Regions from separate parts of the Homo sapiens genome. Here regions 2, 3, 4 and 5 are each linked to region 1. The links come from fine-mapping of genetic effects on gene expression. A gene starts in region 1. Each other region holds a variant in brackets. All regions are shown on one strand. Distances are from middle to middle.

The links.
Region 2: its variant is fine-mapped to the expression of CD82 in whole blood (TOPMed, PIP above 0.99).
Region 3: its variant is fine-mapped to the expression of CD82 in whole blood (INTERVAL, PIP 0.94).
Region 4: its variant is fine-mapped to the expression of CD82 in whole blood (INTERVAL, PIP 0.96).
Region 5: its variant is fine-mapped to the expression of CD82 in anterior cingulate cortex (GTEx, PIP above 0.99). The same link has a PIP of 0.9 or more in cerebral cortex and prefrontal cortex.

What each region holds. Positions count from the first base shown.
Region 1 is chr11:44,563,023-44,568,122 of GRCh38, reverse strand. CD82 (CD82 molecule) reads right to left here and starts at 2,460. Exons shown (of 10, transcript NM_002231.4): 1 at 2,387-2,460. RefSeq lists enhancers at 1,372-1,441, 1,947-2,447 and a silencer at 2,362-2,961.
Region 2 is chr11:44,617,138-44,622,237 of GRCh38, reverse strand. It overlaps CD82 (CD82 molecule), which reads right to left. Exons shown (of 10, transcript NM_002231.4): 8 at 3,873-4,076; 9 at 3,515-3,598; 10 at 1,880-3,189. The coding sequence ends at 3,112. Among named protein-coding and RNA genes, the nearest start is that of CD82-AS1, 14 kb to the right of the region's middle. The variant C/T (reference allele first, on the strand shown) is at 2,648.
Region 3 is chr11:44,535,744-44,540,843 of GRCh38, reverse strand. It overlaps the pseudogene RPL7AP79. Among named protein-coding and RNA genes, the nearest start is that of CD82, 27 kb to the left of the region's middle. RefSeq lists enhancers at 443-1,049, 4,898-5,100 and a silencer at 2,160-2,219. The variant T/C (reference allele first, on the strand shown) is at 2,193.
Region 4 is chr11:44,608,928-44,614,027 of GRCh38, reverse strand. The region is part of intron 6 of CD82 (CD82 molecule); the gene reads right to left. Among named protein-coding and RNA genes, the nearest start is that of CD82-AS1, 6.1 kb to the right of the region's middle. RefSeq lists silencers at 1,793-1,842, 1,913-1,992 and enhancers at 4,455-4,624, 4,628-5,100. The variant A/G (reference allele first, on the strand shown) is at 2,624.
Region 5 is chr11:44,593,272-44,598,371 of GRCh38, reverse strand. CD82 (CD82 molecule) reads right to left here. Exons shown (of 10, transcript NM_002231.4): 3 at 3,647-3,729. The coding sequence starts at 3,709. Among named protein-coding and RNA genes, the nearest start is that of CD82-AS1, 9.5 kb to the left of the region's middle. RefSeq lists enhancers at 1-2, 1,328-1,567, 991-1,570, 1,571-2,149. The variant C/T (reference allele first, on the strand shown) is at 2,173.

The DNA of each region.
Region 1 (5,100 bases):
TGTGTCACTCCTCTCCTCAGAAACCTTCAGTGGCTCCCACTTTCTGCAAATCAGATCCAAAGTTCTTATCCTGTCATTCAAGGCCCTCCGTAAGCTGATCCCACCTACTATTCCCACTGCATATCCCCACACGTTCCCAAACTTCAGCCAGAATGAGCAACCTAGAGGTTTCTCGAGAATTCTCAGGACAGGTTGACCTCCCTGCCTCTGCCTAGGCATTTTCCTCTCCTCAAGACACTATCTTCATTCTGGCTGCCGAAATCTTCCCAGTCTGTAAGGCCCTGAAGATCCCTCTAATCCTTTTTTCATTTATCTTCCATCAGAGTCCCTGGTATTCTTGTGTAAGCCCCTTCCCGGATGGTAAGCAACCTGAGGGTGCAGGCCTTATGTGGTCGCTTGTCATTCATCGAGCAGGAAGTGGGGGTGGTGGTGGGGAGGGCTTTCCATTAAGGCTCACTAGGTAGGCTCTGTTGAAATGAACGTCTCCTCCTCCCCACCTCAGGCACCACCTACCAGACCCTCTCCCTCCCCACCATACCAAACTCCAATTTATGCCACTTCAGTGCTTGAAGAGACTGTGGTCCCATGTTGATCCAAGCCAAACCAGGACCAGGAGCCCAGAGAGAAAGTCCTATTCAAGTCTCACCCCCTCCAGGAAGCCTCCTTACCCCCACCCCCTGCCCTGGCTTCTCAAGTGTCTCACTCTTCTGAACACCTCCCCCTGCCCTACATACACACACAGTCTCCTGCACACAGCGCAGCCGCCAGTCCGTCTCTGTCCCACAGCACTTTCCAGTTTGTTCCATACTGTACAGCTTATCTCCCAGAAGATGCAGGGAGCCAATATAATGCAGCACCTTCAGCGTCCTTCAGTGTCCAACCCTGCTTAGATATCGGGTGCCCACATTGCCCCTCGCCCCCATCCCAAGCCAAGTGTGCAATGGTATAGCTGGATTCCAGCCACCAGGGCAGAACAGACCCATGAAATCTCATCTGGTTATAAGCCCTGGGTGTGACTGATCCTCTCTACAGGGACATGGTAGGGATGGGGGAGCCCTCATTGTCAGCAACTCAGGCCTGGCTAGTTCACCTCTGTATCCTCTAGCTCTCTCTAGCATATAGTAGGTGCTCAGTAAACATTTTTAGACTTATTTAACTCAACACTTACCAACCTCAAGCAACATTACAGAAAACTCAGCCACTCTTTGTTCCAGATGACACAGTCCTCATCCCTCAAATAGAGTGATGTTGGTGGCAGGTGGCAATTTCTGGCTTTCACAAGGTCAGGAGGGGCTGTAGCCAACCCCATCTCTCCAAGAAAAAAAAAAGGCTCATTCCCCATAGGAAGCAAGCCCATCACCTGCCCACCCGCATCAAAGCAGCTGTCACAGAGGGAGGTCTCACTGGTTTCCTGGCACCTTGCTAAGTAGTGTATACACATTATTCTATTTAGTGCTTGCTCCTGCTATTGGATATTGTCATTATCCCCATTTTACAGGTGAGGAAACTGAAGTTTGGAGGGGGAATGGAATCCAAATCAGTTTGATCCCAAAGCCCAAGCCTTGACCACAGAACTATGCTGCCCCGCTACTGGGGCCCAGCACAGAGCACCCACCACCTCCAGGAACAGAACCCGTCAGCCAAGAAATTAACCCCGGGTATGCTTCAAGGGCCCCTGGGGCCCTGGGCTTGACCCTGGGCCCAAGGATTGGTGGGGTTTTCCCTTCTCTTCCCCACTCACCAGTGTAAGAACTGTTCCCCAGTTTCCAACCTCCTGCTCAGGCCAGCTCACCTGGAAAAGCCCCACTGAGTTTCCAACTTGAAGTCTTAGGGGGTCCGGCTCAGTTGAACTGTTAGAATTGGTGGGAAGCAGGTGAGGCGGGAAATGGAACCTCCCTGCTTTGGCCTCCTCTTCCCCAGGGTTGGTGGGTTCGAGCCCCAACCGAGGAAACAGTGCACTCTTTAAAGCAATTCGCTTCTCTCAGTCCCATTTTGCAGGGAGAGAAACTGCAGAGGGCAACGCGATGGGAACACCTGTGGCGACCTGCAGCCTGCTCTCACCTGCCAGCTCTCACCTTCCGGCGTTTTAAGTGAGAAAGGGCAACGGGAGCGTGGAATTCACCTGGTTCACTTCCTCCTGCTGGAACCCGGGAGGTCCAGAGCCAGGTAGAGGGACGGACCCAGGATCACGCAGCTGTGCACGGCCGAGTGTGAGAACTGGGGGTTCAGGACTGGTGGCTAAAGCTCCTTTTCACCCACCAGCTGCCCCGACCTGTCACTAGTTCCGAGGAAAGTTGTCCGAGCCGGACCGCAGAAGCGGGGGCTAAAACTAACTTTGCCTATGGTTGTCCGGCAGGCTACCCCGGCCCGCTGCCCCCTTGCTCACCTGCGGGTTCTGCTTTCTGCTCCGCGCTGCAGGCCCAGCGTCACCCGCTCGTGCCTCAGTCGGCGTCGGACTGCACAGCCCGGGGCTCAGTCACTCCTCGGCCCCCTCCCGGCTGCAGCCGGGGAACGCCGCGGACTCGGCAGGCCCCGCCCCCAGAAGACACGCCCCCTCCGCCGGCCCCGCCCCCGAGCCCTTTGGGAAGGCGGTGCGCTCCCGCCGGCCAGGCCCCGCCCACTATGGCCGTACCCCAACCAGCCTCGCCCCCGGGCCCAGCTGGAGCTGAGGCCCCGCCCCGCTACGGAGTCTCTCCTCTATCCCGGCAGCCCCGCCCCCAGGTTACACTGGGGATTAAGCCCGCCCCGCTCCAGCCCTGTCCACTCACGGCGCTGCCTAACGGTCCCGCCCAGCTCCCGCCTACCTCGTCCTCCCGGTCTCCTCCCGGGCCCTCCCAGCGCCCCCGCCTCCTTCACTTTCTCCTTCGAGCCCACCCCATCCCCCGGCCCTAGTAGGGTGAGGCCACGCCCCTCCCCGCACCAGCCTGGGCTCAGCGCCTTCCTAATCCTGCCCTGCCCTGCCCCTCTCATCTCGGGCGGGTAGCCCTGGGGCCCCCACGCTGGCATTCCAGGGCGGGTGTATCCGGGTGCCGCCGGGGAACGGCGTGGGAGCGGTTTGTGTCCTAAGTCGGGGCCTCTATCAGGAGGCGGCCTGGGCCCAGGAACTTTTTGAAAATACTGACTACCATTGATTGAATCCTTGCCAGGGGCCAGGCTCTATGCCAAGCGCTGAATACAGTTCTAGCCCTTGAATTCCCACAACTCATGGGTACTCTCGTTGCGCCTATTTTACTAATGCGCAGTTTAAGGCTCAGAGAAGGGAAGTCGAGGGCTCTGAATCTCATGGAGGCGGGCGTGAGCGGGATCCAGCCTCAGGTCCTGAGTCACAGGCTTGAGCTGCCCCAGCTTGCCTGGACTGGCCCCTGGGGAAGTAGCCCAGAACAACCAGTGCTGGGGCAGTGCCCAGCAGCTGCCTGAGGTGAGGGAGGAGGTGTGGGTTGATGAGAATAGTGGCAGGAGGGGCTGTGGGCCTAAGCCCTCAAAGCTGGCTTTCTCCCTGAAGAAAAAGTGGCCCAAAATTGAGGTGGGCTGCAAGAGCTCTCTAGGTGGCTGCGGTGCCCACCCTGCGTCCCAGCCCTCTGCCCTCCCAGGCTCCAGAGGACTAGCCTCAGGCAGATTACCTGGTTAATGACCAGGGGCATTCACCTGTGCAGCTGACAAAGCTCTTTCACTTCCATTATCACAATGTCCTCTCACAACACACCGTTGTGGGAGGGTATGATTATGAGCGCTTTGTACGAGTGGAGTAAGGGCGGGAGCTGGATCCCAGCCCAGCACTGTAGTTCTCACAGCGTGGTCCTTGAACCAGGAGCAACATCATCTGGGAACTTGTTAGGAGTGCGTATTTTGAAGCCCCATCCCAACTTACTGAATGGAAAACTGTGGGACAATTGGTTTTAATAAGGCCTCCAGGTGATTCTGAATCACATTCAAGCATGAACCACTGTTGAGCAAACTGTAAAGAAGTCAGGGTGGTCTGAGAATCACACAGACCTAGGTAGCTTCCTGGTTGCGTTTTAAACCCAGGACAAGGCAAGATACTTAACCTCTGGGATGAGCCCTTAAACAGGGAATAATAATAAAATGAGCCATAACAATCATACCGATCTTGATGGTAGCTGTTGAAGATTACATGTGACAGCATTCATAAAGTATTTGGCCCACCGCTTGAATGCCGTACATGCTCAGAAAATGTTCTCTTTTCAGCAAAAAGTCTCCTTCATAGCATTCCCACACCAAGTCAGAAAAGTGAGGCTGGAGAATCCTTTAAACCCAGCAGTGTGTCATACCCGCAGAGAGACACCCTCTATCCTGCAAGTGGTTAAGATCCTAACAAGCTCCTAGATGATGTGGATGCTGGTCCGGGGACCACACTTTGAGAACCACTGTGCCATTCTGTCTTGGGCTGGGTTTCAGATCCCTACCCTACCCAGCCCATGCAAAATGGGCATAAAATTCCTCCTATTCCACCCTACTCCACACCCCGCTCCCTCCGAGCTGGGGGTGTTTGTGATGGTGTATGGCAGATGCTCCTGACAGCAATAACTTGACTTAAGCATACCCTGAGAATGGTCCTGTATGGCAGATGCACCCCAATGTGTGTTTGGAGTTTTGAGCTAAGGAATCCGGGAATGACCAACCTGGAGATTCATTCCTTATCTGTGAGGAACATTTGAACCCCGGCCCATCCTGTGGAATGCAGGGTGTACAGGGGTTCAAAGCTCTTTGTTTGGGGCCAAATGAAGGTTATCAGGTGGGGGTTGTTAGGGGGAGGGTGCTAAGTGAGAGTGATGTATAAACTGCATGCTTTTTGTAAGCGGTTGTGGCTCTCCTGCCCAGCCTGCCATGGGACTGTACAGTTCTCCTGTCCAGCCCACTGCCACCGGCCGTCCCTGTGTGTAAGTTTCCCAATAAAACCCCATGTCCCAGTTGCTGGCTCTGGTCTCTCCTTCAGCCTCTTGAACCTAGTACCATCCCTACTGAAGTTAATAGGGCTCCAGCAGACAGATGGGAACTGGCCATTGGCAAAACAGCTGGATCCCCTCACTGTCCCCTCCCCCCATGAAGACATTCTCTCATATTAGTCCCATCTGCTATCCC
Region 2 (5,100 bases), 54 kb before region 1:
ACATGGGTCTATGTTCCCTCCCTCCCAAAACCTCACAGGCTGGGAGTAAGTGGGTTGCTGAAACTGGGTGCTCCCCAGGAGGTTGAAATGAGGAACCCAGCAGGCTCAGAGCTCACAGTGACCAGATTTCACAAAAGCGAGGGTCAGAGCCTCACACTACACACGTCCTGGGGCTGTTCTGGGAAATCTGGAAGGGCAGGAGCCAGTGGAGCCAGGAGGATGGTCTTTGAAGTCAGATACGTGGGGTTCAAATCCTGGCTCTGGCCCCTTCCAGCTGTGAGCTCTGGGCAGGATGGACGTGTCAGAGGAAGCAGCCCACCCCTTCGCTAACTTCTGACGTTTTCTCAGTCCTCTATTTTGCAAACAGCTTTGAGCCCACCCTCAGCCTGCCAGGCCCCGTGTCGCACAGGAAGATGGAGATGCAGCTGGACTCAAACTCAGGTCCCCTTGCTCCCAGTGAGAAAGCATTTATGAAAAGACACCCAACAGCTCTCTGCTACCCTTCCTGAGGGTGGAAGCTGTGGGGGGCCAGGGAAGTCAGGCCAGGTGGAACCATCGACATTTTCCTCTCCTGCCCCCATCCCAGAGGGAGGCGACCAAGGCCACAGAGGGACCCACAGCCGACCCCACCGCTGACACCTCCTCAGCTGCCACATTCGCTGAGAGGTCATCACGTGGCTTGGGACAGACATTACTCCAGGTCTGAAAATCTTCCGGAATCAACGCAAAGGGGTGCAAATAGGCAGATTCCTTGTCCCCACCCTAGATCTGCAGCGCCAGAATCCTTGAGCCTTGGAATCTGCATTTTCACAAGTGCTTCCACTGGAGTGGGACGCTGGCAGGCCCCGCGTTGGCGAAACTGGGAGTAACCACGGAACCTTTGGGCTCTGCCGGGCTCCTAGGCTGAGGCTGCAGCGCCGCCTGGTGGTCCCTGCTGAAACACCACTCTAGCCGCCGCCCCGCCTGGCCCCACTGCAGGGAGGCAAGAGTTCCCCTCCCCACTGGCTCCAGAAATGAGAGAAGGTGGGGCAAGTGCCCTCTGGACTTCATGACGCCGGGCAAGGGGCATGCTGGGGCTCAGTCGTCAGAGCCGTGCACAAGTAAGAGCAAGCTTCTTTTTCTTTTTCTCTCTCTCTCTCTGTCGTTTTCTTTTTCTTCCTTTCTTCTTTTTTGACAGATTCTCGCTCTGTTGCCCAGGCTGAAGTGCAGTGGCACAATCTTGGCTCACTGCAACCTCCATCCCCCGGGTTCAAGCAATTCTCCTTTCTCAGCCTCCTGAGTAGCTGGCATTACAGGCGTGCACCACCACACTCGGCTAATTTCTGTATTTTTTGGAGAGATGGGGTTTCACCATGTTGGCCAGGTTGGACTCGAACTCCTGACCTCAAGTGATCCACCTGCCTCAGCCTCCCAAAGTCTCACATTTCATCTTAAAAAGTCCCCTGAATTCTGCACATCTTACTCCATCACATTTCTTTAGTATGAAAATGTTTCCTTCCACAAATCTTTGCAGAAACGGATGCTCTAGAAAGCGATGCCAAGTTTATCCTGTGGCTTCCCTGTCCCCCATCACCAGCCCACTTTTGTGCAGCTTCTGGGGGCACCCATACCCTAGTTTCAGAAGCAGGAATTGAGAGGTACAATCTATACCTCTCTTAGCACCAAATCAAACTCCAGGCACCCCGGCATGCAGGCAGGCCCATCAGAGCCTGGCCCATCACGGTCCTAAGGTTCAGGCTGCAGAAGCAGATGCCTGCGGGGAGGGCAGAGCAGTGAGGGGTCCAGCAGTCTCCAGCAGACCCAGCCACTCTGCTCACACCCTCTGCCCTGGGTCCTCCCCTGCCCCAGGAAGCAGCATCCCTACCATTCCAGACTAGACTGTTATAAATCCTCTTTAATAGTCTTAGAATCTTGAGTGTGTTTTACAGAATGGTGCACACAAAGCCCCCTCCCCTCTCCCCCTACAAGGCACAGCCTCACCCACCCCACTCCCCAGGGGCCAGAGGACCGCTTGCCAAGAAAGGCCAGCCCACCTTCTCCCAGGAGAAGCCATCCTCCTCCTCCCCGCCCCTGGCCAGCTCCGGACCCTGGAGAATACAGGACCAGCTCTGTGCCATGCCCCCAAGGACTCACCTGTCCCTAAGCAGCTCAGGGCCAAGCCAGATCCCCTTACCCAGGCAGACCCCCTCCAGCCCAGCTCCCCTAGGCCGTGTCCCTAGGGCATGGCCTAGGCTAATCTGAGCTGTCTAGATGGACCTGCATCAGGCCTGGGGAAGGGGTGCCACCCCTTAATATCAGGTAAAACCCACCCTCTCCCCTCTCCCACTGCCTTCAATATAATTGTGAAAAATAAAGATATAAATGTCATAGTGGGAAATAAGTTGACCCACCCAGTAGGCAGTCTCCTGACAGCCCAGAGTGCCTTATCTAACGCCCTTCCCTCCCCAATTTTTTTTTTTTTTTTTTTTTTTTTTGAGACGGAGTCTCTTTCTGTCCCCCAGGCTGGAGTGCAGTAGCACGATCTCAGCTCACTGCAACCTCCGCTCCCGGGTTCACACCATTCTCCTGCCTCAGCCTCCCAAGTAGCTGGGACTACAGGTGCCCGCCACCGCGCCCGGCTAAATTTTTTTTGTATTTTTAGTAGAGA[C/T]GGGGTTTCACCATGTTAGCCAGGATGGTCTCGATCTCCTGACCTCGTGATCCACCCGCCTCGGCCTCCCAAAGTGCTGGGATTACAGGCGTGAGCCACCGCGCCCGGCCCCCTCCTCCCCAATTTTTCATACAGTTGCCCCTATACAATATACACACCCTTGAGGGCAGGTAGAAGTCCAGCCCACCTGCGCCAGGGACGCTGTGGGGAGCATTTTTCTCTGAGTTGCTAAGAGAACCCTGATGGGCGGTGAGCAGAGGAACCACAGAACAGCCAGGGCTCAAGGCTGGCAGCGGATAGGCCAGGAGAGATCGCTAGGCCCCAGAAAGCCCCCTACTTTCAGTCAGGATGGGCAAGAGGGTCTTCGCAGTGAAGTGGGAGGCAGGCCTGGAGGAGGGAGCCAGGGAGACCCCTGGGAGCCCTGAGGTTGGGGGCCAGGCAGGGAGATGGGGATAGCAGCTGCCTCAGTACTTGGGGACCTTGCTGTAGTCTTCGGAATGGACGTGCCGGCACAAGCAGATGGACAGGACCATCCCCAGGAGCTGTGGGGAGAGGCGGAGAGTCAGAGGGAGGCTGGGTGTCCCGGCCTCAGACGCCCCAGCCTCACCATCCAGGTTTACATGGGGATTAAGTGGATCCTCAACTTGAGCCTCACAACCACCCTGTGATGCAGGCAGCAGAGGGAGGCCCAGAGCGGGGCAGTGCCTTGTCTGAGGTCACACAGCCAGACAGTGCTCAGACCAGAGGGCCTCTGGAAGCTGATGGGGTGCTGGCCCCCTTGGCCACCACCTCCCCAAGGAGATCAGCAGAACAGAGACAACCCAGGAGGACCTGGGATGGAGAAGGGATGGGGGAGGGGGCTCAGACCTCGATGATGGCCACACCCACGCCCACGCCGAGGATGATGCCCAGGTTCTCCTGCAGCCACGCCTGCACCTTCTCCATGCAGCCCTGCAAGGGCAGAATGCGGTCACATCACCCCGCTCTGCACCATCCCACCCCGCCATGCAGAACCACCGAGAGCCCCCCAGTCCCAGCCCGGAAGCCCCTACAGAGGGCTCTGCCTGTTCCTTGAATAAATACATTAACAAAGAAGTAGATGAAGGTACAAATGACAGATGAATTAAGGGAAGGAACTAAATGCAGGAAGGAATTGCTGAGCAGTAGCCCAGATGGCCCCCAACGCCCTCGGAGCCCCGCCCCCGATCCGCAGCCCCCCGCACACCTCCTGGTACACAGGCCAGTCCTCAGGGTGGTTGCCACTCTGGGTCCTGTTGCCGGGGGCCTCGCAGAAGCCCTTCCTCACAGAAAGGCTGTTGTCCTCTTCCCCCTTGACTTCGCAGGAACAGGGGTAGGTGACCTCAGGGCGATTCATGAGCTCAGCGTTGTCTGTCCAGTTGTAGAAGCTGACCCAGCCGCAGCACTTCACCTGGGCAAGGCAGGGGACAGACTGCTTGTGCTCACGGCTCACCCTAGGCAGGCTGCCCTCCTGGCAGAGGGAGGACCTCCCCAGGACAGAGACTGAGATATGCCACTTCCAGGCCCCTGGTCCCAGCCGAACCATCATAAACTACAAGTACAGCAGAAAAATCAAAACCAGGACCAGCAAAAATACAAAGCAGAGTAGGAAGGAAGTTCAAGTTGAAGGAGCGCAGGTGTGCAGGGCACAAGGAGAATGGACGGCAGACAGTTCACAGTGCAGGGTTTAAAGTCAGGCTACTGGGTTACAATCCCAGCCCTGCCGCCTACCAGCTGAGCAACCTCCATCAAGGAACTAGCCTCAGTTTCCTCATCTGTAAATGGGGATAATTAAAATCCCCAACTCACAGGGCTATCACAAGGACTAAATGGGATGAGGCAGGCAAAGTACCAAGCATAGGTGTGGGGAGCACAATAAGCTTAGGAAAGGCCGTTCAACTTTAGTGCAGGAGTTGAGATTTGCCTCTGAGCTTCCTGGTGAAAAGGAAAAAAAGTGAAAAGTGAAAAAGGAGACGGGGTCAATTCCGCCTTTTTTTTTTTTTTTTTTTTTTCTGAGACAGAGTCTTGCTCAGTCACCCAGGCTGGAGTGCAGCAGCGTGATCTTGGCTCACTGCAACCTCCACCTCCAGGGTTCAAACGATTCTCCTGCTTCAGCCTCCTGAGTAGCTGGGATTACAGGCACTCGCCATCACGCCCGGCTAATGTTTGTATTTTTAGTAGAGACGGGGTTTCACCATGTTGGCCAGGCTGGTCTTGACCTCCTGACCTCAAGTGATCCGCCCGCCTCGGCCTCCCAAAGTGCTGGGATTACAGGTGTGAGCCACCTTGGCTAGCTGGTCAATTCTGCCATTTTAAAGGAGAAAATGCTCTAGTTCTAGAGAGAAGAAAGCCTTTCCGGGCTCTGTGTGCTAAAGGAGGTCTCTGTGTGTGAATCCCCGCAATGCTGGGGGTTCCTGGGAGGATTCAATGGGATA
Region 3 (5,100 bases), 27 kb after region 1:
CCTTCCTCCTCTGCTCTTGTGCCCTCTACTCCCTCCCCAGTTCACCTCCCAAATCTGATCACAGCTTCTGGTTTGAGTTCCTTGCTCCACCCCTAGAGTAACCATTGCAACACATAAATCTATTTTCTTCTGCTCCTCCACCTTCCCAAGATGCCAAGAGGAAAGAAGCGCAGGGGGAAGAAAGTGGCCCCGGCCCCTGCTGTCATGGAGAAGCAGGAGACCAAGAAAGTGGTGAATCCCCTCTGTTAAGAAAAGGCCTAAGAATTTTGGCACTGGACATCCAGCCCAAAAGTGACCTCAGCCGCTTTGTGAAATGGCCCTGCTATATCAGGTTGCAGCGGCAGAGAGCCATCCTCTATAAGTGGCTGAAAGTGCCCCCTGTGATTAACCAGTTCACCCAGGACCTGGACCACCAGCTACTCAGCTGCCTAAGCTGACCCACAAATACAGACCAGAGACAAAGCAAGAGTAGAAGCAGAGGCTGTTGGCCCAGGCTGAGAAGAAAGCTGACAGCAAAGGGGACATCCTCACTAAGAGACTACCTGTCCTTCAAGCAGGAGTCAACACCGTTACCCCTTGGTGGAGAACAAGAAGGCTCAGCCAGTGATGACTGCATGTGAACAGACGTTTGGTTGCCAGCCTGCTGCTTCCCGCAGAGAAGAGTGTGCATGCTAGGCCGATCACCTCTCAGCAGGTAGCTTGGAGACAATGGGCCTAACCATTTTGAGTAGCACTTGACATGACGAGGATCCCATCGAGCTTGTTGTCTTCCTGCCTGCCCTGCATTGTAAAATGTGGGTCTCTGATTGCATTATCAAGGGGAAGGCAAGACTGGAACGTCCAGTCCACAGGAAGACCTGCACCACTGTTGCCTTCACACAGGTTAACTCAGAAGACAAAGGAGTTTTGATGAAGCTGGTGGAAGCTGTCAGGACTAATTACAACGACAGATATGATGATATCCGTCGTCACTGGGGAGGCAATATCCTGGGTCCCAAATCTATGGCTTGCATTGCCAAGTTGGAAAAGGCAAAGGTTAAAGAACTTGCCACTTAACTGGGTTAAATGTACACTTTCATTTTCTGTACATAAAAATCATTAAAATGATACAAATTCTCCTTCAAAAAGAATTTTCCCTCTTCCCTGCTTAAGACCTATCGATGTCATGCATGCACTGATTTCCACACTGGGGTCGGCAGCTTTTGATGGTTCCTTAGGAATCCAGAGGAGGTGGGGGATGGGCAGAGCAAGTGTGGTTCCTAACTTCACATCCCCCCAACCCCTACTGCCAGAGAAGCCTTACTTGTACCAGGTGTACAGAGAGGCAGTCCCATAACCTTGAGATGAAGGTCAAGGCTTCAAAGCCAGGCGGCCTGCATTCAAAACCTGACTCTGCATCTTTCAAGCTTCATGACCCTGGCCAGGTTACTCGCATTCTTTGATCATTAGTCTCCTCATCTGTAAAGCGAAGCTAATGTTGTACCTGCCTCCTAAGGGTTGTTGGGAGGAATAAATGAGTTCATTCAAATAAGGCGCTCAGGACCATGCCTAGCACACAGTAAGTGCTCGCTAAGTGTTGGCTACTATTGTCAATTACTTTTTTTGATTTTGCTTTTGGTTTTCTTGGTGACAGGGTCTCACTCTGTCACCCAGGCTGGGGTGCAGTGGCGCAATCTCAGCTCACTGCAGCTTTGACCTCCAAGGCTCAAACAATCCTCCCACCTCAGCCTCTGGAGTAGCTGGGACCATAAGTGCATGCCACCACACTCCGCCAACTTTTGTATTTTTGGTCGAGACGCAGTTTCGCTGTGTTGCCAGGCTGGTCTCAAACTCCTGAGCTCCAGCAATCCTTCTGCCTTGGCCTCCCAAAGTGTCGGGATTACAGGTGTGAGTCACTGCACCTGGCCTATTAACTACATTTTCACACAGGAATTTATTTCCACTGATTAAAAGCGGGGAAAAAGTGAAAACCATTGGTTTTCATACTTTACATTGCAATTATTGCTATGCACCTTCTATATTTGGCTGGGAATCTCTTGTGGGGTAAAGACCAGGTTTCATTCAGTGTCTCTGACACCTTGGAGATGCTGCATCTAGCAGGCCTTCAATAAACACCCATCAAGGGAGAAAGGAAGCCAGGCAGTGAATGCGCCCCTGGCCTTAGCATGTCGTGCTCACTTATCTCCAGCAGG[T/C]GTCGCCCTTGTCTCTGAAACGGCCGTCTGGGCCCTGCTCACTGCTGTCCAGGCCCACTGACGGTCCGATGAGACCTGAGGACGCCGTGGGACCAGCAGATCCGAGTTGTTCTGCGTCGGGGAGGAAGGAGGCCCTGGGAGAGGTGCGAAAAACCTCACCAGAGCAGGCCACAGGCTGCTTGGAGCCTCCAGGCTTGAGTTCTACTCCCAGCGGGGGACACCAGGAGCGCCCATTTCCTCTCTGAGCCTTGGTTTCCTCCCCTCCAAAGCGGGGGCAATCCTGCTACGACGGGACATCGGGATGTTGTCAGGCCACACCTGACAGTTGATAGGCGTTGGATTTGCGGTTTTGTTTCTTTGTTTTTAAGTTGCACCTCCCAGGGAAGTCCAGGGGCATCTCCAGACTTCCCCAACACACGGATTCTGCCTCTCTGAGGGACGGCGAAATGAAAAACTCAGCAGCCTGGAATTCTGAGAAGGGAGAAACCAGGAGTGAAGAACACATGGAGCTGCGTAGGTTCCTACGGAAGATGCCAGGAGAGCCAGTGGTCCAGGGAGACCACACCTTGGACACACTCTTCTGCGCTGGCATGAGCACATCCGGGTAGGCTGCAGGTCTCTTTTCCTCAGAGGCAGACGCGCTGGAGTTACATGGATAGGGAGATGGAGGTGGCGCTCCTCTGTCACCGCAGTCCCCTCAGCCTCCTTGGCTGTGGCTCAAGCAAGTCCCTTCCCCTCTCTGGGCCTTTCTCTCTGTCAAATGGGGCTGGCCTGAGTCGGGCATTTTCAGGCTTAGCAGTAGAGGCCTGACTCTGCCACACCCAGTGGGGAAGACAGACACGGAGGCAGACAAAGAAAGCCGTTGGAGCCTAGGATGACAGGACAAGGACCTCACTCCCTTGGCCACCCCTCCACTGTGGTGATCCTAAGTGGCTCAAACCATGGGCTAGCTCTCCAAGGCTCTTTTTTTGAGAGGGAGTCTCACTCGGTCACCCAGGCTGGAGTGCAGTAGCGTGATCTCGGCTTACTGCAACCTCCGCCTCCTGAGTTCAAGCAATTCTCCTGCCTCAGCCTCCTGAGTAGCTGGGACTACAGGGATGCGCCACCACACCCGGCTATGGATTTTTTGTATTTTTAGTGGAGATGGGGTTTCTCCATGTTGGTCAGGCTGGTCTCGAACTCCTGACCTGGTGATCCACCCGCCTTGGCCTCCCAAAGTGCTGGGATTATAGGCGTGAGCCACCGCACCCGGACCTACAAGGCTCTTTCTAAGCACAAGTCTTCATGACACTGCAGTCCTCTTCCCGGTTCACCTCAGCTGTCCTCCCACAGGCCTCGCCCCACATCCCTAGGCCTCCAGGGATGTCCTATCTCCCTGACCTCTCCCCACACTCACAGGCCCAGGGAATGTGAGGTTTGGAAGGGGGCCCACGGAGGGGGCTGCCGGCTTCATCTATCACCGGGATGGATGGGGAAACTGGTCCAAGGTCCCATAACTCCCAGGGCAGAGCTAGGTCCTCCCTGACAATCTGCACCCCACCTCTGACCCTCAGACAGAGCCTCTCTCCAGGCCTGCATGAAAGCGGGCCAGATGTTCGTGGGTGCTGGGCTTAGTGTCAGGGCCAGCGGGAGGCTGGCCCGCCCCACAAGGTCGCCGCCCTTGCACTTCCCCTCCCAGCAGCTAATTAGCTCCAGGCCAGGTCCACCAGAGCTCCCAGGATGCTCCTGAGCTGGGACCTCACCCCGCCTGCTGAGGTCACAGCCCCCCCTGCCCGCCCTTGCTTCTCTTCCAGGCTCATCTCTCGCCCCTCAGACACCCTCCTCCTTCGCTCCCCTTTCATTCCACAGAAGAGGGGCAAGAAGCTCCGAGTCGAGATCACACAGCAACACAGAGGCAGAGCCCGGAGGAGACCTGCCCCAGTTCTCAGCCCAGCGCACCCACCCTTCCCACCCGCGGATGGTAACCCGCAGGGTGGGTGACGGTTCTACTCCTGTCTCCACCACCTCCCAGCTGCGTGACCTTGAGAAAATTACTTCCCCTTTGTGACCCTCAGTCTCTTCATCCCTAACAGGGATAATAACAGTCGTTGATGATAGGAATATAATCATCAACAATATTAAATGTCCTCAACACGTGAATATTAAATGAGATAAAATGTATAAGCACCCAGCACCTTACATACATATTGCTAGATCCTTTCTTTTCTCTCTCTATCTCTTTTTTTTTTTTTTTTTTTTGAGACGGAGTCTTGCTCTTGTTGCCCAGGCTGGAGTGCAGTGGCATGACCTCGGCTCACTGCAACTTCTGCCTCTCGGGCTCAAGCAATTCTCCTGCCTCAGCCTCCTGAGTAGCTGGGACTACAGGCACCCGCCACCATGCCTGGCTAATTTTGTGCGTTTTTGGTAGAGACGGGGTTTCACCATGTTGGCCAGGCTGGTTTCGAACTCCTGACCTCAAGTGATCTGCCTACCTTGGTCTCCCAAAGTGCTGGGATTACAGGTCATCCCGGAGCTTTCCTGAGTCCTTGTGGGCTGCCCCTCCTCCCTCTTCTGCATCATAACATTCTCTGGCTGAGCTTTTCCTGCAGGCCTCATCACTTGCTCCCTGTGTCCAGCTCGGGGCCAGACACAGGTGGTGTCCATCTCCCACTCCCATCTCTGCCTGTCCTCACTACATCATGTCCCTCCTGAACCAAACTCCTTCTCCAACTCACTGGCCAAGGAAAATAATAATAATGACCACAACAGCATTTATTATGAAAGCTAACATGTATTGAGGACTGACAATCCAGTCCCTATTCTAAGCACTTTTTTGTATTAGCTCATTTAATCTGTCCCCATTTTACAGATGGGGAAACCGAGGCACAGAAAGATTTAAGCAGTTAGCCCAAGGTCATACAGTTGGGAC
Region 4 (5,100 bases), 46 kb before region 1:
AAACAAAAAACAAAAACAACAACAAAAACAACAACAACAAAAAACAAAACAGAAAAGATCCTCCCTCACCCCTTCCCAAGCCCCAAGCCAGCAGTGCCAGCCAGCCGGAGTGTGAGGTCAGTTGCCTTTCTGGGACCTGGCTACTTGCCCCAGAGCTCCAAAAACATCTCACTTTTTTTTTTTTGTTTTGCTTTGTTTTGTTTTTTTGAGACAGGGTCTCCCTGTCACCCAGGCTAGAGGGCAGTGGCAGGATCTCAGTTCACTGCAACTTCTGCCTCCTGGGGTTAAGCAATCCTCTCACTTCAGCCTCCCAGGTAGCTGGGGCTACAGGCATGAGTCACCATGCCCGGCTAATTTTTGTATTTTTAGCAGGGACAGGGTCTCGCCATGTTGCCCGGGCTGGTCTCGAACTCCTGACCTCAAGTGATCCACCCAGCCCAGCCTCCCAATGTGCTGGGATTACAGGCCTGAGACACCTCGCCTGGCCCAAATCTACATCTTGCCTATGCTGGTCCTCACCCTGCTCAGGAATTAAGGGTTCCTTCTTGTGGTGGAGAGCAGCACCTGCTCTCAGCTAACCCCACAGAGAAAACACTGATTTACAAAGCAGGCAGAGAAGGGGTTTCTAAATAAGTCAGTTGTGCAAAAGGAGGCAAACCCAGAGCCCGCTGAGGGCAGGGCCTCCCTCGGCGATAAGCAGGCCTGGGTGGGAGGGGAGCCTCCGAGAGCCAGCCCCTGCCTGGCTCCACCTAGCCTCTCACATGGACCTTGCCCAGAGACCTTTCAGGGCAAATGCATGGTTGGACTGGTCAAGGCAGTGGGGGCGAGGGACCCTAGAAGGCAGGGATGCCAAGGAGAAGGCCACACACCTTCCCACCTCGGTTCCTGAGAAGGAAGAATTGGGAGAAATGAGACAGGTACTTCCAGGTGGGGTTTCAGAGCCTGACTCCCAGGGAACCCTGTTGGTGGAGCTTCCAGCAGCTCCCCATGGGCAGTCCTTGAATGAACGCTGTGCTCAGAGAACCCATATCCTGCAGATGGACCTGCAGCCCTGGCTCCTCACCCAGCTCCCTTGGTTAAATTAATGCTGGGGCTGGCCATGGTGGCTCACGTATGTAATTCCAGCACTTTGGGAGGCCAAGGTGGGCAGATTACGAGCTCAGGAGATCGAGACCATCCTGGCTAACATGGTGAAACTCCATCTCTACTAAAAAAAAATACCAAAAATTAGCTGGGTGTGAATGGCAGGTGCCTGTAGTCCCAGCTACTCGCGAGACTGAGACAGAAGAATCGCTTGAACCCGAGAGGTGGAGGTTGCAGTGAGCCGAGATCACGCCACTGCACTCCAGCCTGGGCGACAGAGCCAGACTCCATCTCAAAAAAAAAAAAAAAAAAAAAAAAAAATTAATGCTGGGAAACCAGCCTCTGATGACGCTCCCTGCCCTTCTCTCAATAAAGCTCTCAGCATGATATTTAAAAAAAAAAAAAAAAAGCCCTTATACAGAGTTCTGCAATTTACAAAGCTTTCCTGTCAGTAATTAATCCCAACACTAATAGTGGCTAACTTTTATCAAATGTTTGTTATGTACCTGGTGCTGTGGTAAGCACTTTAAATGTATTATCTCAACTGAATCTTCACAGCAGACCTATGGCCTAGGTATTCACCCCATTCCCTCATTATAGAGATGCAGAAAACAAACCCAGAGAGGTTAATTAACTTGCCCAAAGTCACACAGCCAACATGCGGAAGAAGTGAGGTTTGCACACAGGCTTGGCTGATTTCAGAACCCAGGTTTTTACCTATTAAGCTTTATTGGCATTTAAACCACACGGCTATACCCAGTTTTAACCAGGGCCCAGAAAAGCTAAGTGGTTTGCCTGAGTCACATAGCTGGGGCTGTCTGCCAGGTGATCTGACATCTCGGGTCCACCTCTCAACCCCAGTGGGTGGGTGATCCCCACGGTGTGGAAAGGAGGGGCTCTCTAGAAGCATCTGTGCGGAAAGCTGCCTCTCCCACATCCTTCCCCACCCACCCAGCTTCCTCACAACATGTTGCACTGAGGCTCTGTTTAAACCCCAGCGTGGTTGTCACAGCAGCCTGGACTTCCCTGTTTCTCTCCCAGCCTCCCTGAAATGAGAAGGTGATGGAAGCTGGGTGGTTTCCACCTAGATGGGTGGTTTCCATGGAAACACCACAACATCTTTCAGTCCAGAATGTGGTTGAGGGACACACCTGGGCCACGGGGACCATGGCCACAGGGGCTGGTTCAGCTTGGAGCTGATGCTCAGGAGGCCTGTGCTGGGAGTGCAGGGAGGTCACCCTGGCAACCAGGTAGCTACTGAGACAAAAAGGACAGGGAGGTAGCAGGAGAAGACATTCATGAGCTCCCTCCATCCCCCCAGGGACCGCTCCATTGTTTCTGCCTGCCCTGCAGAAACCCACTCCTTGGATGTAACCACCCTTCTATTTCTCCATGGAGCTGAGGAGGCCCCACTCCCTCGATGCCAGAAGCAGGCAAAAGACCTGGGCTGCCACTCAGTGCCATCCACATCACAGGCACGGCGAGTGGTTCAGAGATGGGCTTGAGACCCATGCTCACATACCCGGCCCTCTTTCCATCA[A/G]TGTGGTAGGATGAGGACCTGGGCTACCCTCAGGCTCCACTGGGGACAGCCTGCCCGAGAAGGGAGCCAACAGAGGAGGGTAGGGCTGAAGGGTGAATAGGGACAGCAGCAGCCTTTGGGATCCAGCTGAGCCTTCTGCTGGCTCTGGCTACTTTCAGTTGAGTCACTGTCACATGCCATAAAGAGTCCTGCCCAGGGCCAGCTGCATAATTTACACCTAGTGCAAAGCAAAAATGCAGGGCCCCTTGTTTAAAAATTATTAAGAATTTCAGCTGGGCGTGGTGGCTCACACGTGTAATCCCAACACTTTGGGAGGCCGAAATGGGCAGATCACTTGAGGTCAGGAGTTCGAGTTCAGTCTGGCCAACATGGTGAAACCCCATCTCTACTAAAAACACAAAAATTAGCTGGGCCTGGTGGTGTGTGCCTGTAGTCCCAGCTACTTGGGAGGCTGAGGCAGGAGGATCACCTGAGCCCAGAAAGTGGAGGTTGCAGTGGGCCGAGATCATCCCACTGCACTCCAGCCTGGGCAACAGAGCAAGACTCTATCTCAAAAAGAAAAGAAAAAAAAAAGAATTTCAATACAGCAACAGCAGATTATCCTGTGTGACTGCATAGGTTGAATGCCGAGGAAGCCAGCCCTGTCTTCCCTGTCTCCCTCCTCCCCATTTCTCAGAAGAGAAAAATGAGGCTCAGAGTTGGAGCAACTTCCCAAGATCACATAGATAGAAAGCAGCAGAGACATGACCAGACCTTGATCTGTGCAGCTCCAGGGACCCGGGATCTTAGCCTCGGCAAGCTGCCCAGGGCCTCCCCATGACCCTGCTGTCCTCTGCATGGCTCTACTCACGTCCCACCCAAATGCTGAGCTTTGACTTCTCTTTTAGTGTGAATTTTCACAGAGTCAGAGTTAGGAGAGACCTTTGCGTCCAGCAAATCATCCAAATGTAAGAGTCATGCTTTTTTAGGCTCTGCTTAAATGCTCCCTGCGATGGGGAAGTCAGTACCTCACACAATAGCATGTTGCGGAGTTGAGAGGCTCTGATACAATTTAAGTTCTGCTCAAATGACTTCTACCCACTTGTATTAGTTCACATCCTCCTCCTCTCTCAGCTACCCAAGTCCCAGCTAGGACCACAGGAACAAATCAAATCCCTCTCTCGAAGGACACATGTCATCCAGATACTTGAGACTAGACTACATCTCCAGGGTAACTTTTCGGGCTCCTGTGCCCGCCCCTTGGGGTGCTGTGCAGACCTCTTGCCATGCTCTTTAAGGTGTGAAATAGCCCCTTATAATAAGGTATAAATGCATGAATTGGACCCACATCTTCCTGTCCTCTCCAGGTTTCCCACATGAGATGTTGGCAAATGCTTTGCTAGAATACAGATACACCAGCTCAGAGGCTGCATCCCAGTACCCTGATAGGAAATGAGGGCGCTTCCTGCATCTTTTCTGCAAGTCCAGCTGCAATCCACGTAATTAGCTACCCCAGAATGCAGAGCCAGTGACCAGCGTGTGCTTCAGAGATTCTAGCCCAAGTGTCTTTCCATAATCCCTTTCCAGAGGGGTAGCCTGGACTCCTCCATTCCCTTCTCAACAGGGGAGAGAAAGGTCACCTCTCCCTGTCCCAGGCTCCAGCTGCTCTTCCTCCCTCTGCCCCATCGCAAGAGAACCCCAAGCCAGAGAATCAGGAAGTTCTAATTCAGCAAGCAGACAGTTCACAGAGAACCACACTGTCCCCTAGGAACCCGTCTCGCCACCTGTGTCTCACACATGAGGGTATGTGCGCACCAACAATTTGGGGCTTTCAGGGTGAGAGCAAGGAGGACAAGAAGGAAGTCACAGTTCCCCTGACCAACATCTCTGGGGAGTTGTCTGGCCAGCCACTGCCACTGTCACAGCCCCCACCTCTGGCTCCCAGCCAGGCCAAGTGAGCCCCTTCCCCTCCAATGTCTTCTGCTTGAGCGTGACAGCACTCAGAGCCTCAGGGGCCTCCCTGGCACAGGTATGGCCTGCCAAGTGCACCCAGCTCAGCACCCACACACCACAGGAAAGGGCAAACTGCATTCACTTCCTTCTCACTCCTCCCACCTCCACTCTCTAGAGAGAACAAGTCAGAATCCCTGACTGCCTGCACTGGGCATGGCCCAAGAGCTCGCCTGTGGATCAGAGAGTCTGGGTAACTTATCCGAAGCCACACAGCAATCAGCGGCAGAGCCCACACTAAAACACAGGGCCCCTGAATCCCAGGGCTGGGCTCTGCTCACCAGAGGCTGGATAAACAAGCAGATGAGGATCTTAGCACCGTGCCCAGATCCCCATTCCCGCAGCCCTTGCTCTGCTGACAACGAGGGCAGCAGGAACAGCTGCCACCTATTGAGCCCTTACCAGGCCTTCATGAAGTGAATAATGGCGGCAATAATAATAAACACTGGCAATGATGCCAGCAACATCAGCCTCCGGCTGAGTGCCGC
Region 5 (5,100 bases), 30 kb before region 1:
TATTAAACTTTGAAATAAAATGTTGACAGTATCAGTATTATCAATGTTTCCTTTTGCCCCAGGGCCCAGGTGGCTCAGTAGGGGGTTGCCTCTCTCCCTTTACCCTTGTACTTGCTACCTTAAAGACCACTGTGACTGATGACTACAACCACAAAGGCACGGTGACCACCCCACGTCTGCCCCCCAGTGTCTCCCACCAGAATCATCACTGAGGTATTATCTGTCCTCTCCTCTCTCCCAGTGAGACGGGCCTTGTAATTGACCTCATTTTATACACACGGAATTTTATATGAGGCCTTGATTTTATCCATCAGGGACTGGAAGCCAGATGGTGGCAGGTGAGCTATAGGGATATTTTGGATCCATCCTGGGCCTTCACCCAGAAAGCCAGTCTCGGGACAGAAAAGCCCCTGAGACACTGGGGAGGAGAAGAGTCTGCTGGAAGGTGGGTCCACCTTAATTTGCACAGCTGGGGGAAATGGGGGCTTTCCAGGACCTGGGAGTTTGGTTCCCCAAGACCTGCAACCCTACCCAGCCCACAACCACCCCACAGCACAGCGAGGCAGGGGCCAGTGCTCAGGCCCACGTCTGCTCCCTCTGCATCTCAGACCCATGTGGGCAGAGCCCCTGCCCCATTCCCTCCCACATTCACAGGGTGGGACAGGAGGGAGGACAGCCCCTACCAAAAGGGAATGGGAGGCAGGACAGAAAATCCCCTCTTGGCACACATAATCCCAAGTAGATCAAAACCCCACACTACTCAGCTGGCTCCTCAGCTTGCCAAGAGGAACCCAGAGAGCAAAGTCCCCGGGGCTACCCATTCAGTCCCTCTGTAGGTCTGATGACCCCAGCCTGATGGTCAGATGTGGCTGGATTAGCCACGGGGCTGTGGCAGAGCCAGAAAGGAGGCTGGGCAGCCTACCAGAATGGGCAAGGCACCATGGCACCCCCTTTTTCTCTGTGAACCAAGACTGGAGCTGTGGGGCAGGCCCCATGTTAATCACTCCCCCAGCCCTTCCCCAATCCCCAGATGGGACCCATCAGGAGCCAGGACCCTCAGAGCAGTGAGCGTCCTTCCCCAGCATAGCCACAGCACCAGTGCCTCTGCATTCCTTTGGACCTGAGAAAAGTGGCAATGCGCTGGGGAGTCTGGAGTCCAGAGGGAGTACAGGCAAAGACATACAGGTGCACATGCACGCAGGCGCGAGCACACATAGCAGCCACGGGGATTTTTCCAAACCACAAATCCAACCACGAAACCCCTCCCAATGTGCATAAAACAAAGAGGCAGGCTGGCCGGGTCTATGCCTGGGGAGGTGCACTCTGCCTCCACCGGCTGCCCCTGCTGCCAGGATCCCCCTCTCCAAAGCCACACCCAGAACCCCAGGAAGCCTTTGCTGACCTCCATGACCAGGCCAAGAGCCTCATCTGCTTTCCGAAGAGCCTATCTGTTCCTAGTACCCCCAACAACTGCAATTTTTCATGCATTTGAGTAGTTATTTGATGGAAGCCCACTGCTCCCTAGGACACAAGCTCCGGAAGTATAGCAATCAGGGCTCTTCCGCCCTGAACATCTGAAGATGCTGAGGTGTCAGATACACATTTGCTGAGGAGTAAACAAGCCCGTTCTGCCTCCTCCAGCCCTCCTCTTTCACTCTCACCCTCCTGTCATACAAGCTGCCCCTCCCCCCTCCACCATCCTGATGGGTCATCCTAGGCCCCAGTACACAGACAGTTAACACCTGACTCCTGCCAGCCCCTGGAGGAGCCAAAAGGAGGCCAAGCCCTGGCCAGAGAGCAGCTTTTCCAGTCCCTGGTTCCACAGGGCAACTTGCGAGCAGGACAGAAAGGGCCACCCTGGCTGAAACCACCAACCCCACTCCCTTTCTCTATGAGGGTCTCCCCAACCCCCACTGCATGAAGGAAAGTTTCTTTATCACTGAAACCCAAGCTCCGTGATCTCCTAGGCCAGAGCCCAGGCTCCTCTCTCTAGTCCCTAAAGCCCCCAGGGATAGAGCTACAGTGCCCACGCACCCCTTCCCCCGAGTCCTGGCCCATTGGCCTTTATGCTGGGTCTCCGCCCAGACACCAAGTGCTTGCCAGGAAAAGCTTGGCTTTGCCTGCACAGGCAGCTGCTTCCCAAAGTCCTAGGGCAGCCAGGAGAGACCTGAC[C/T]GCCAAGCTGGGGAAGCCCAAGCCCGGCCTGGGGTGGGTTCCAGGCCCGGCTGCCATGAGCAGAGGGCCAGAGCCACAGTGGGGCCTCACAGGGTCCTCCAGGAGGGAGCTAGGGCCGGGGCCAGGGTGGAAAAAAAGCAAGGCAGGCAGCGCCAGGGCTTCCTGTGTGTGTGCATGCGTGTATGAACACTTGTGTGCGGGTGCCAGGAACACATTGTACATGTCTGTGCATTGGGTTAAAGCTGTGAAGGGGGAATTTTTAAAATTCTTTTTTTTTTTTTTTTTTTTTTTGTAGAGAAACAGGGTCTTGCTATGTTGCCCAAGCTGGTCTAGAACTCCTGGACTCAAACAATCCTCCTGCCTTGGCCTCCCAAAGCACTGGGATTACAGGCAAGACCTACCATGTCTGGCCAGAAGGGGAATTTAGAATGATTCTTGTTTATTTCCCAAACTTCCCATAAACTATGTAACTTGTAATGTAAACCCCCTGTTCCCCAAACAAGTAATTAATATCTACCGTAGAAAATTGGGAAAATACAGAGATGCATAAAGAATAAAATCAAAATTCCCAAGAATCCCAACATTAACATTGAGGTATTTTCTTCTCCTCTCAAAAATACTCACTTTTTAATGAATACGTACATTTAAAACTTTGGATCATAAGAAACATCCTACTGTACAACCTGATTTTTTTTTAACACTATAGGGTTAAACCGTCAACACAGGGAAGCCAGCGCTCCCAACACTACTCTGAGGCTATGAAGTCCTCTCCAGGGCACTGCCCCCCAACAACACACTCTCACTCACACACACACCCCACCATCCCAGCAACTCCAAGGCAAGAGGCAGTCCATGCCAGGCCAGAGAGGAAAACCGAGGCCCCAGGAAAACCAGCAGTCAATGTCCACAGAGCTGACATCCGGATGGCCCATCTGCTGGGGTGGGTCTGGGGAAGGAGGTATGTGCCCTTCACTGGCCCCACGCCTGGCGCCCTCTTGCTCTCCCTATGAGAGCTCAGGGAGATACCTTCCCACGACAGGGACGGGGGTGTGATAGGGGCAACTGGGGCCTGGAACTGTCACAGGTCAATTCTTCACATGGGCAGGGTGGGGGCCAGGACAGGACTAGAGAGATGCTAAGAGGCTTCTTCTAGCAGCTCCTGCTGTTGAGTTAGGGGGATGCCCAGGGGCTCTCCTCTCCTTCCCCATACCCACCGCCAGCCCAGGCTTTGGGTGATCTAGGAGAGGGGAAGGCCGGGTCAGGAATCCAGTGCTTGGTCAAAGGACCAGCTGGGAATGGCAGGGAATCTCCTCACCACCCCAACTAGGTTCCGTTGGAGATAGTTCGTCCTCAGTCCCTACCCACCAAATCCCCCCAATCCCCGGCCCGGTCGGCTCTGGAAAGGCTCAGGCTGGGATGCCCCTGGAAGGAGAATCTTTTCGGAGGTGGTCAGGACGGCATGGGACATACTTACAAAGAAGATCAAGTTGAAGAGGAAGAGAAAGTATTTGGTGACTTTGATACAGGCTGAGCCCATCCCGCCAGTCCTGGAGCTTCCTGGAAGAGAGAAGGCAGGCAGGCCAGTGAGGGGATCAGCTCAGTCTGCCCTTGCAGCAACCCCAGGAGGTGGGTACTAACCCTGTCCCTGCCTTAGAGGATGCAGAGGCCCAGAGAGGTTAGACAACTAGCCCAAAGCCACACAGCTAGGAAATGAGGTCCCACGAGCAGTCTTGTGTGCCAGGCACTTGATGCTTGGCAGTTAGGATCCGGATCAGCCACTGCACTGGGGCTGGGGCTGGGGCTGGGGCTGGTGGGAGCAAAATGACAGAGGGAGACCCTCACCCCTCACCTCCATGACCCAGGCTCTGGAACTTGCACAGATGGACTCTGTTTGAAGTCAGGGGGCCGGGAAGTTAGTGATCCATTGACAGAGACCCAGAGGTGAGACCTGTGCTTGTTCCACAGACTCCCTCTGGGACTAGGGGCTGGGAGTTGTGGGGTCTGCCAAGGCGAGAAGGGGAATTTTGGCTTCTCAGAAAATAGGCTGAGCGTCCCAGCTTCTTATTACAAAGGGAATAAACATGCATTGTAGAACACCCAACAAATACAGAAAAACAGAAATCAAGCAAAATGTATCTCACTCCAGAGATTAAAAACTGTCATCGTTTTAGTAGCTATTATTCGTGTGTGTGTGTGTGTGTGTGTATAACAAATGGTTCTAATCAAAATTGGGCTCATTCTGTATAGTGTTTTCTAGCCTGTTTTTTTCATTCTACAATCTTCACTCTCTATATGTTGATAAAATGCTCTTCATAGTTTCACATGTTGCATAGGATTCCATCCTATTAGTACTTATTAACATTTGGGGGCTCACAGAGTCCCCCAAAAAATTCATGTGTAGTTAGCATTTTGTGATGCTAATAATTTCTGGGAGTTCATGGACCTCTGAAACCCATTCAGGAACCCCAGTGGCCCCAGGTTAAAGTCTCAGATGTGGCCATCCCATAAAAGCATTTAACTGATACTCTAAGATTGGACACACAGGTTGTTTCCAAGTTTTCACAGTCTCCCCGATGACACAAGTTGTGCTTCTGAAATGACACAAACCATGCTTGGGCATGCTGTGCCCCCTCCACTCCAAAAGACCCCAGGTGAGGGGAGGGCCCCGGGAGGAAGAGGGAAGCTGGAAGCTGACTGTTCTCACCCTGACTCAGAGGCCAGAAAATCCAGGAGTGCCAGCCGCCAGCCTTCAGACCCTTTGGGGCAAAGGGAGCCAGCACCGCCGGGCAGCTGGGGCCTGGACAGCTGGCCTGGGACAGCTGCATGGGCAGAGCTGGGCTGGGGGGGTGGAGGGGACGGCACCAGGCCCACTTGTGTTTCCCTGCCTTATGGAGGGGGAAGGGCAGGCCACAGAGCAAAGGGAAAGGA